2 separate regions of the Homo sapiens genome follow, and region 1 is linked to region 2. The links come from fine-mapping of genetic effects on gene expression. Tissue or cell type: whole blood. Region 2 holds a variant in brackets; the other region holds the start of a gene. Each region is shown on its reference strand, or each on the opposite one. Region 1 holds the start of ATP2B1 (ATPase plasma membrane Ca2+ transporting 1). Region 2 holds the start of FFAR2 (free fatty acid receptor 2).

Region 1 (5,364 bases), not on the chromosome of region 2:
AAAAAATTGTAAAGCCACTGTCATACTGGTAGGTACCTTTATTTGGTGGCAATGGCTAGTTCAAACCACCTATTAAAAGCAGCTATTACTTTCCTTCTTTTACCAAGAATATCCAGACCATCAATATTATTATAAACACAAATCAAAACTAGTTTCTCATCTCATCTCAGAATGCTAAAATCCCAAGCTTCAATAAAAAAAAGATTTCCCATACAATTGCAGAAATTTCTCTCAAAAGAGAAATGAGAGAATACAGAAAAATGAAGACAATTCCCCCTTACACGTCAAAATGGGGATGCCAATAATGACAGCTGCGATAAAAATCAAGAAGGCGTACCCCGAATTTTCACCATTTTAATAAAAGAAAATCACGAAATTTTAAATTAAAGGTGGCGCTCTGTCCTCAACTCACCCGAATGTGACTCACTTTTGCAGACTATATGGTAGGAAATTAACAGTTACTTTTCAAAGATCTTTGCAGTTACACCCAAGCCAAAATCAGGACAGAGATCCACCCTTAATTACAGCAATTTAGCTGTCTTATCTAAAGCAAGGTAAAAACTAAAACGTCCTCCTGAAATCATAGCTAAATAAGCCCATTTCATATACTAGCTATCAAAGGTTCCCAATTAAAAAAAAAATGTTTCTATTTACTTCAAATTTGAACTCACCAGGAGGATAAAGAAAAAGAGAGGGGAGGAGGAGGACCCAAATGAAACGCACAAGTACAAAAAGCAGATTCTCCTCCAATCCCTCTTAATTCCCCCAATCCACCCCTGCCACACACAAGGACAGGGAGTCTCGGGAAGGCTGGCATCGGGGCAAGTGGTGAAGGCCCTCCATTCACTCACGTGGGCCACCATCCAAAGGGTTACACACCCTCTGCCAGATGAGAGCCTCATACAAACCAGGCCCTTACAAGTACTTCTTATTATAAAATACACCCACGCTGAACAAAAGCCTTATTTTAAAATAAGACTGTCCTCAGGTGGGGGAGGTTAAACACAACAAAGGCTTCCATGTTGACAGGCAGACAAGTTCAGATATATGCATATACCTACACACGTATGAAAAAAATCTATGTAGCTAATTTATCACGAACAGCAATCGATACCAACAGAAGCCATTAGATTATTAATAAACCAAGAAAAGTAGCGGGCACAGAAGCGAAAGGTGGCTGTCTGCAGCGCTCTAACCCAAAGAAAAGGTAAATATCAGCCTGTCGAGGAGGGTCGAGCCCTCCAAGTACCTGCAGACCCCTTTAACCCACCCGGACGCCCTGCCCTCCCCTCCGAGCCAAGCAGCGCACAGGGTGCGAGCACTCCCAGCGCTGCGAGTCCCGCAGAAAACTGGTGAATGAAATGCGCACAGAGACCAACCTGGCTGGTGACCGCGGCGCAGAACCAGGGGTCGCTAACCAGCTTAGCCACAGGATTCTCCCGCAGGATGGGATAAAGAGAGCACAGCCCCCACCCCACACCCCTGCCACTGGAACGCGGTCCTCCTACAGACTCCTTCCTCAAAAAGGGAGGTGGGGGCGCAGGCTTTTTTCTCTTAAACTAAGTGAATAAACACGAATCGGAAACAACTGTGAACATCCTGGGGGGCCAGACGGAAGGCGTGAGGAGAAAGACCAGGCGGCTCTCCAACTCCCGAGGAATCACCGTCCTGACACGCCAACAATCAACCACCAGGGCCAGGGGCCGACCAGGGGCCCCCGCTCCCCTCCCGCAGTGCGTCTGGGGGGCCGAGGCCAAGGATTAGAGGGGTGACCCTCCCGGGGCGCGGGGAGAGGGAGTGCCGGGCACGGTGCCCTCAAGGTCACCACGCGCCGTGGCGGGGGCGACCGGTGGCGGGATGGGCTGTGGCGCGGCCGAGGCGGCTTCGTGAAGCCGAAGACCTGCGGGTGTAGACCAGAAGCCCCAACAAGCCCCATCCCTCGGGCCCGGAGCAGCGACTCCCAGACTGACCCGGCGCTGAGGTGCACGGCGAGAAGCCCGCTCACCTTCACAATCTCCCGGCAAGAGGCAACCTGCGAGGGGCCCCGACCGCCCCCGTCAGCTTCTCCCGAATCCGGCGCAACCCGCTGCGCACCCAGCTATCAGGATCCCCGCCGCGACGCCCGACCTCCGTGCTCCGCCTGGCCTCCCCCGCAGGTGACCTGCCCCGCCGCCCCCGGCCGCGGGCGGGCGGCGGCCGCCACTCACCTCGCCCGGCAGTGGGAACCATTTTCCGAGGGGGAAGGAAAGGCAGGCTGCGGGAGGGTCGCGGGGCGTTAAGGGGCAGCGGGAAACGCAGAGGATGGGGGCTCCGTCCTCAGCGCGTCCGCAGCCGGCTCGCAGGGCTCGGGGCGCCACGCGGAGGTGCAGCTGCACCTCGGGGATGGGGCGGCCAAGGAGCCGAGAGGCTCGGCGTCCACCAGCCGGGGCTCCCTACTCACGCTGCACTGCGAGGAGGCGGCGGCGGCAGCGAAGGAGGAGGAGGCGGCGCCCGGCCGTCCCCGCCCAGAGCCCGGCAGCCACCGAGTGGCCGCCCGCGTCCCCGCAGGACCCGCCTCCTCGGCTCCGCAGAGCGGCACACAGGGCGCGCCGCGCTCGCTCGGCACGGGCAGCTCAGCCGGCCTCACGCCGCCGTCCGCAACAGCAGCCGCGGGCGGGGTGCAGCCACCTCCGTGAGCGCCGCAGCCCGCCCCACTCGGGGCGGGGCCCGCGGGCACCGGAGAGCGGACGGCCGAGCACGAGGGGGCTGCGCGCAGCTCCGGGCAGGGACCCCGTCTGCACCGGGTGGCCTGCAAGATTGCCGGGGTAGGCAGGGGGAGGAGAACGCTCACCCGTTCCGGTCTGGCGCTCCCTTTTCTCCACACCCACACGCCTCCCGCTCCACGCTGGCGGCGCAGCTGCTCCCGCTGCCACAGCCGCCACCGCCGCCGAAGCTCGCGCCGCCGCCGCTGCCGCCTTGGCTGAGCGCGGTCACGTGACGCGATCCGCGGGGAGCCTGGGGGCGGGCGAGTGCGCGCGCGCGCGCGCGGAGGAACCGCGGCTCGGACCGGGACTGGGAGCTGAGCGGCACTGGGAGGGCGTTTAAGGGGAGGACCCGGCGAGCGCGCCCTCGGCTGGCGAGCGCGCGCCTGGCGATTAGAACTTGCCGCGCGGTCGGGAAAGGGTGGCCGGAGTGAGGGGCGGAGGTGGGGACTTGCGCCTCCGCACGCCCCTCCCTTTCTTCCTTCCCCTGAGCGCCTTGGCTTGCCGCTGCCCCCGCCCCCTCCAGCGCGCCCCTTCCCTCCTGCCGCAGCCTGCGATTGGCTGAGAGGCTCTGACGTCCGTGTTTCCATGACGTGTTGGTGCAGGAGGGAGCGGCGGGGGAGGAGGGGGTGGCCAGGCGCGCGGGGAGGTGACTCCGTCAGTCACAGCTGCTGTTTCGGCGCGGGGCCGGGCCGCTGCCGCGACGTGTGGAGGCAGGAGAGCGATGATTGCCGCAGGAGAAGTGCGGGCGCCCTTCACCTGGGGCCCCTCCCGAACCGCCCCCGGGCCCATGCCCCTCCAGGGCCCAGGAGCGAGCCAGCGGGAGGGCGAGGGCGAGCGCTCCTGGCGAGGACAGATTAAGGCGAACCCCCAGTCAGCGGACATTTGAGCGGCTCCTCGCCGCGTCTCTGCCCCCACTCCAAACCGGACTCGACGCCTGTCCCGGGCCGTGACGCACGCACCGGAGGAAAAAGTGCTTCTCGGCTCGCTCCCTCTTTGGGGAAGAGAGCTCACTCCCCATGCGGGCGCGGGACACTCCATCTCTGTTCCTGCCGGTCGGGTCCGCAAACACCGGGGATCCCAGCTGCGGCGCCCAAAGGGTTAACGCAGGCGTTCGGCCAGTGCAAACCGGCCTCGCAGGATCCGCGCTTAAAATCCGGGTGTTTTCATTTTGGGTTTGTTTCTTCTACTATGCCAAGCTGGTGGCTCTCTTTTAATTCTCTTGTAACATCTCAACCCTGCACCCATCTTTCCTGAGGGGAAAAGGAAACGGGATAACTTGCGGTATTTCGATGCTCAAAGGTAACCGGCGGCTCTGCTCCAACCTTCAAGAGATTTTGCAAGTTGAAAAAAAAAAAAAAACCATCCTTCGTAACATCTACTTAAAAAAAAAAAAGCAAGTTTTCCTTCTTGTACACGCATATACACAGTAAAGATGTGTATCTTACCTAAGATACCGCGCTTCATCTTCATCTAATCTTTATTTGAACTCACCGTCGCCACTGGCCCAGAGACCTTGTCAGTGTTATTTTCAGTATCAGTTAATCAGAACAAAAAGATAAGTTCTGCAATCTTCTTTCTCTTAATTCCAGAACTGGAAAATTAATATTTATATAGCCTCCTCAAAAGCATACAGGCAATAGGAAGTATGGTATTATGTTCACGATCTGATGATAGCATTTGTTTTAAAATATTTTAAAAGATTAGACACAAAATGTGTAAAAGACGTTTAAAAGTGAATAAATATAAATCAATGCTGTTGCAAATAATTTTTTTATCAGTTTATGTATCTCACTAGGCTTGACATTACCAGCCTTCTGAGCTGTGCCCTTGATGTGTAAGATAAACGAACATTGAACAGAATGATAGCATTTTTCCTCTCTTCAGTCACTGATGGAGAATTGGTTAATGTGGTACAATAAATAGCCCTTCCTGACACTATTTCAAATCTTTTTAACAGAAGAATAACCTAAATTTCACCTAATAAATTTCAATATTATTTCCCCCTAAAATATCTTTCAAAACGACTCAGAGACATTTAAGAATCACTGGCTTTTTTCCAACTTTTCCTCCAAGGAAGTTACAATACAATGTTGAATTATGTATTCTACTTTAATCAAGAATTTGACATTAAAGTAATATGTGAATCATTGCTATAGTACACTAGCAAAATGGGTAATAAACTAGAATCTGTTCACTTTGTGGGTTTGTTCCAGTTCCAGATTATAAAATGAATGCTCTTAAAGTGTTGTGGTCATGAAACAATTATTGAGCATCTTTATTTAAGAACACGATTCAATTAAGTTTTCATTTATATCGATAAATCTATAAATGAAACATACGGAATATATATATTCATGTATATCCATAAATGAAAACGTGTGTGTGTGTGTATCCCGGAACATATTTGTATGCATTTTAATGAAATGTGAGTCATATGCAATGACAAACTTTTACTGTCATAGTCAAGAAAATTGTACTGTAGTTTGGTTTTTATATTTTTATTCTTCAAATAGGAAATAAAGGGTGAAAGCAATATAGAAATAACTGTTCACATTACATTAAGAAATTCAATTTTTTTCTCCCACAGGCTTAGTACTAAAGCATCCCTCACACATATTTT
Region 2 (5,364 bases):
AAGTGGCTCACTCTCTGTGAAGCTGCGTTACAGGCTTGAGACGAGGCAGCACTTACGGGCATCTGCTAAGTGCTTTATATACACAACCTCACTGAATCCTCGCAGAAGTCCTAGGATGTCAGAATTCGCATGCTCACTTGACTACAGCAAACTAGACTTCAGAAAACGGATCTGCCCCCAAGGTTGTAATGAAGGGACCTGGATTTGAGCCCATATCTGCATGACTATAACTCCCACACCATTTCCATCACAACAAGATGCAGGCCAGGACCAGCCTGTTTCAGCTGAGACGGGCAAAAGAAATGTGTTGGGGGCAGAGGGCAGGAGACCATAGAGAAAGTAAAAAAATTGAAGAAGAAAAGGAAGGAGTGCCGGGTGCAGTGGCTCACGCCTGTAATCGCAGCACTTTGGGAGGCCAAGGCAGGCGGATCACTTGAGGTCAGGAGTGCAAGACCAGCCAACATGGTGAAACCCTGTCTCTACTAAAAATACAGAAATTAGCTGGGCGTGGTGGCAGGTGCCTGTCATCCCAGGGAGGCTGACGCAGGAGAATCGCTTGGACTCGGGAGGCAGAGGTTGCAGTGAGCTGAGATGGCGCCACTGCACTCCAGCCTAGACAACAGAGCAAGATTCAGCCTCGAAAAAAAAAACCAAAAAAAAAGAGGAAAAATAAAAAGGAAGGAGGAAAGCTCATTTCTGAGAATGAGCAGAATGACAGAAGAAACTGCCTAAGAAAGAGAAAAGAAAATAATCTGACTTGGGAAGTAAAAAAAGAAAAATGCCTGGGAATTTTTTTTTTAAATCAGGAATTAAGGACAGAAAAATCTGAATTTGGAAGTCAAGAGTGAGGATTCTCTAGGGAGAGAATAAAGATGCTGGGCCTTTCCTTTGGGTTTGAGAGGAAATAGTGCTTAAAGACTGACCTTCCTTTCTCTGGTCACGTGGCTGGTGCTAGTATAAATGCTTACTACCAGCCAGGTTCCTCACCATTTTTTCCTGCATGGCATGGACAGAAGCAGGGGCTAAAGCTCTGTTCCTCTCTCCTGGAAGCTTGCAGACCTCCCTTCAGAACCAATCCCAAGAAGCCACCTATCCGGAACAACACAAGGCAAGGCAGCTAGTGTAGTGCTTGTGCTCTGGGAAGAGAGGCCAGGATCAGGTTTGAGGGGAAGGTTCTGGGAGACTGGAGGAAGGATGTCAGAACCAAATGGAAGACTCATACCCAGAGACAGGAGCTAGTGTGAGGAGCAAGGAAACAGCCAGGAAATCAAGGCTGGAGAGTGGACAGAGGGACAGGACCTGGGTTGGGGCCAGCAAGGGTGACACCCCAAGTGGAAACTGAGTTACCCCGTGAAGAAGACGAGTTCTATTTATGGTCAGAATGCCACGCTCAAGGGCCAGTGAAGGCCTGTGGGCTTTTCTGAATATTTCTCTAAGGTCTTCTAGGGACAAGCCTTCCTCCTAAGGCTAGTGCTGGTTCATCCTTCTTCCCCTCCACCCTCCTCTAAGCCTCCCAGCTTCCCCTTTTCTTTTCTTTTTTTTTTTTTTTAGACGGAGTTTTTGCTCTTACCGCCCAGGGTGGAGTGCAATGGCGCAATCTTGACTCACTGCAACCTCTGCTTCCCGGTTCAAGCGATTCTCCTGCCTCAGCCTACCAAGTAGCTGGGATTACAGGTGCCCGCCATATCACCCGGCTAATTTTTTTTTTTTTTAGTGGAGATGGGGTTTCACCACGTTGGCCAGGCTTGTTTCGAACTCCTGACTTCAGGTGATCTGCCCGCCTCGGCCTCCCAAAGTGCTGGGATTACAGAAGTGAGCCACTGCGCCCAGCCCCAGCTTCCCCTTTTCTAGAGAGTCCCAGAGTTTGGTGTTGGACAGGAGAGGACAAGGTGGGGGAGAATCTGTGCTCTGCAAAACAGACGAACGGAAGTAGGAAGCTGGGCTGGTGGCTGGGCACTTGGGTCCTTTGGAGAGCTGGCACTGGGTATCCGCGCCTGGGGCGCCACAGCCTCTTTATACTGATAAGCATCTTACAGCTCTCTCCCGGCACTGATGCCTTTCTCTCCTGCAGGTCTCTGTCTGAGAAAGGGACTTGAGTAAAGTTAGAAACTGGCAACAGTAACTTCCTGTATCTGTGAGGACAGGAGGAGAAAGGCTAGGGAAACTGGAGGGGGAATTCCCTTGGGAAGCCACGAGTTGGTCTCCTCCAGAGACACATGATGGCAAACATAATCACTACTGCTTAATATCCCGCCCCAGGCAAAGTCAATAATTGCTCTGGGTAGTTCGAGCAGGTGGTGTGAGCAAGCCGTGGTGGCATCAGAAAGCACAGTCCTGGGAAGGGGACGGTGCCGGGGAGGATGTCCGCATCCTGAAGGAGAGCTGGCTGCGCGGGCTGTGAGTGAGACCTCCCTGACCCCGCCCTTTTTTGTTCCCCTCCAGGATGCTGCCGGACTGGAAGAGCTCCTTGATCCTCATGGCTTACATCATCATCTTCCTCACTGGCCTCCCTGCCAACCTCCTGGCCCTGCGGGCCTTTGTGGGGCGGATCCGCCAGCCCCAGCCTGCACCTGTGCACATCCTCCTGCTGAGCCTGACGCTGGCCGACCTCCTCCTGCTGCTGCTGCTGCCCTTCAAGATCATCGAGGCTGCGTCGAACTTCCGCTGGTACCTGCCCAAGGTCGTCTGCGCCCTCACGAGTTTTGGCTTCTACAGCAGCATCTACTGCAGCACGTGGCTCCTGGCGGGCATCAGCATCGAGCGCTACCTGGGAGTGGCTTTCCCCGTGCAGTACAAGCTCTCCCGCCGGCCTCTGTATGGAGTGATTGCAGCTCTGGTGGCCTGGGTTATGTCCTTTGGTCACTGCACCATCGTGATCATCGTTCAATACTTGAACACGACTGAGCAGGTCAGAAGTGGCAATGAAATTACCTGCTACGAGAACTTCACCGATAACCAGTTGGACGTGGTGCTGCCCGTGCGGCTGGAGCTGTGCCTGGTGCTCTTCTTCATCCCCATGGCAGTCACCATCTTCTGCTACTGGCGTTTTGTGTGGATCATGCTCTCCCAGCCCC[T/A]TGTGGGGGCCCAGAGGCGGCGCCGAGCCGTGGGGCTGGCTGTGGTGACGCTGCTCAATTTCCTGGTGTGCTTCGGACCTTACAACGTGTCCCACCTGGTGGGGTATCACCAGAGAAAAAGCCCCTGGTGGCGGTCAATAGCCGTGGTGTTCAGTTCACTCAACGCCAGTCTGGACCCCCTGCTCTTCTATTTCTCTTCTTCAGTGGTGCGCAGGGCATTTGGGAGAGGGCTGCAGGTGCTGCGGAATCAGGGCTCCTCCCTGTTGGGACGCAGAGGCAAAGACACAGCAGAGGGGACAAATGAGGACAGGGGTGTGGGTCAAGGAGAAGGGATGCCAAGTTCGGACTTCACTACAGAGTAGCAGTTTCCCTGGACCTTCAGAGGTCGCCTGGGTTACACAGGAGCTGGGAAGCCTGGGAGAGGCGGAGCAGGAAGGCTCCCATCCAGATTCAGAAATCCTTAGACCCAGCCCAGGACTGCGACTTTGAAAAAAATGCCTTTCACCAGCTTGGTATCCCTTCCTGACTGAATTGTCCTACTCAAAGGAGCATAAGTCAGAGATGCACGAAGAAGTAGTTAGGTATAGAAGCACCTGCCGGGTGTGGTGGCTCATGCCTATAATCCCAGAACTTTGGGAGGCTGAGGCAGGTGGATCACTTGAGGTCGGGAGATTGAGAACATCCTGGTCAACATGGGAAAACCCCGTCTCTACTAAAAATACAAAAAAATTAGCTGGGCATGGTGGCACATGCCTATAATCCCAGCTACTCTGGAGGCTGAGGCAGGAGAATCCTTGAACCCGGGAGTTGGAGGTTGCAGTGAGCTGAGATCACGCCACTGCACTCCAGCCTAGCGACAGAGCAAGACTCCATTTAAAAAAAAAAAAAAAAAAAAAAAGAAGCACCTTCAGGCTGGAGAAGCAGCGTAGCTAACACAAGTCCAGTCCTTGTGATGTGGCTGGTAGTTGGGGATGGCCAGGCTGAAGCAGAGAGTCCTAGAGAAATCTCGATACAAGCTTCAAAGCAACACCTAGACACTGCTCTAGCGGTTGATCCTGGAGATAAACCAACAAGAGAGAGATGGAAGAGAAATACTAAATGAGGTCAAAGAAGACTCAGAAAGGTTCTGAGCCTGGAGATGAGCAGGGAGGCCTCAGGGCTTAGACCTTTAATGATAGGGGTTTCCCTGCATTGGTTTGACCTGTTGCCTTTTTGATGTGCTCTGTTTGTTTTCATGTGTTGTCTTGTCTCCCCTGCTAAACTGGGAGCTGCCAGGGGTCTGGGTCTTATCTCCTTCCTCCATGGTACCCCACACAGGCCAGGATGTGGTTTGGTACCCAGCAATCAGAGATTGGCACTCCCTCATACAGGGGAAAGCAACCTGGTCTAGCAAATTGAAAATAAAGATGATAAAACTCTGAAGTGAATGTCCACAATTTTTGTAACACTGCTGCAAGCACAGGGAGGGCAAAAATAGGAGAGAGAACCAGATTCAGCAGCAAAGGGGAAAAGTGATGCATCTGAAACCACAGAAACATCTTAAGATAAAGAGGTGGTGTGGGCAAAGGAAGTGAGAGCACTGACGGAATCGTCTTTCGAGGGATGAATAGAGAGTCCGGACTTAGAAAGGATGCAGGGTGATTCCGATTCACAGTCATCTGTCTGCCACAGGGCCTTAAAACATGTCACCCTCCTGCTCAGAAACCTGCAGAGCTTTCCTATCATCAAAATGTTTCCTTGGCCAGTTGCAGGGGCTCATGACTGTAATCCCAGCACTTTGGGAGGCTGAGGTGGGAGGATCACTTGAGCCCAGGAGTTGGAGACCCACCTGGGCAACACAGTGAGACCCTGTCTCTCAATTTTAAAAATTTAATTTAAAAAGATGCGTCCGGCTGGGCACAGTGGCTCATGCCTGTAATCCCAGCAGTTTGGGAGGCCAAGGCGGGAGGATCGCCTGAGGTCAGAAGTTCTAGACCAGCCTGGCTAACATGGTAAAACCCCATCTCTACTAAAAAGACAAAAAAAATTAGCCGGGCATGGTGGTGCGTGCCTGTAATCCCAGCTACTGAGGAGGCTGAGGCAGGAGAATCACTTGAACCTGGGAGGCAGAGGTTGCAGTGAGCCGAGATTGCGCCACTGCACTCCAGCCTGGGCAACAGAGCGAGACTCTGTCTCCAAAAAAAAAAAAAAAAGTGCTTCCCCCAAGGAACTCATATTGTACCATTCTTTTCCTTGCTTTGTCCTCTCTCTCCCCTTCCAGTTCTACCTGCCTAGCTCATTTTTCCACAAT

Evidence for each region. PIP is the estimated chance that this variant, and not a neighbour inherited with it, causes the effect.
Region 1: ATP2B1 starts here. The variant in region 2 is fine-mapped to the expression of ATP2B1 in whole blood (TOPMed, PIP 0.97).

Annotation. Positions count from the first base shown.
Region 1 is chr12:89,706,389-89,711,752 of GRCh38, forward strand. ATP2B1 (ATPase plasma membrane Ca2+ transporting 1) reads right to left here and starts at 2,450. Exons shown (of 21, transcript NM_001366521.1): 1 at 2,208-2,450. It overlaps ATP2B1-AS1 (ATP2B1 antisense RNA 1), which reads left to right and starts at 2,567. Exons shown (of 1, transcript NR_028138.1): 1 at 2,567-5,364. RefSeq lists enhancers at 1,329-1,418, 1,429-1,528 and silencers at 1,719-1,948, 2,099-3,118, 3,139-3,688.
Region 2 is chr19:35,447,272-35,452,635 of GRCh38, forward strand. FFAR2 (free fatty acid receptor 2) reads left to right here and starts at 986. Exons shown (of 2, transcript NM_001370087.1): 1 at 986-1,108; 2 at 2,443-4,496. The coding sequence starts at 2,444. The coding sequence ends at 3,436. The variant T/A (reference allele first, on the strand shown) is at 3,075.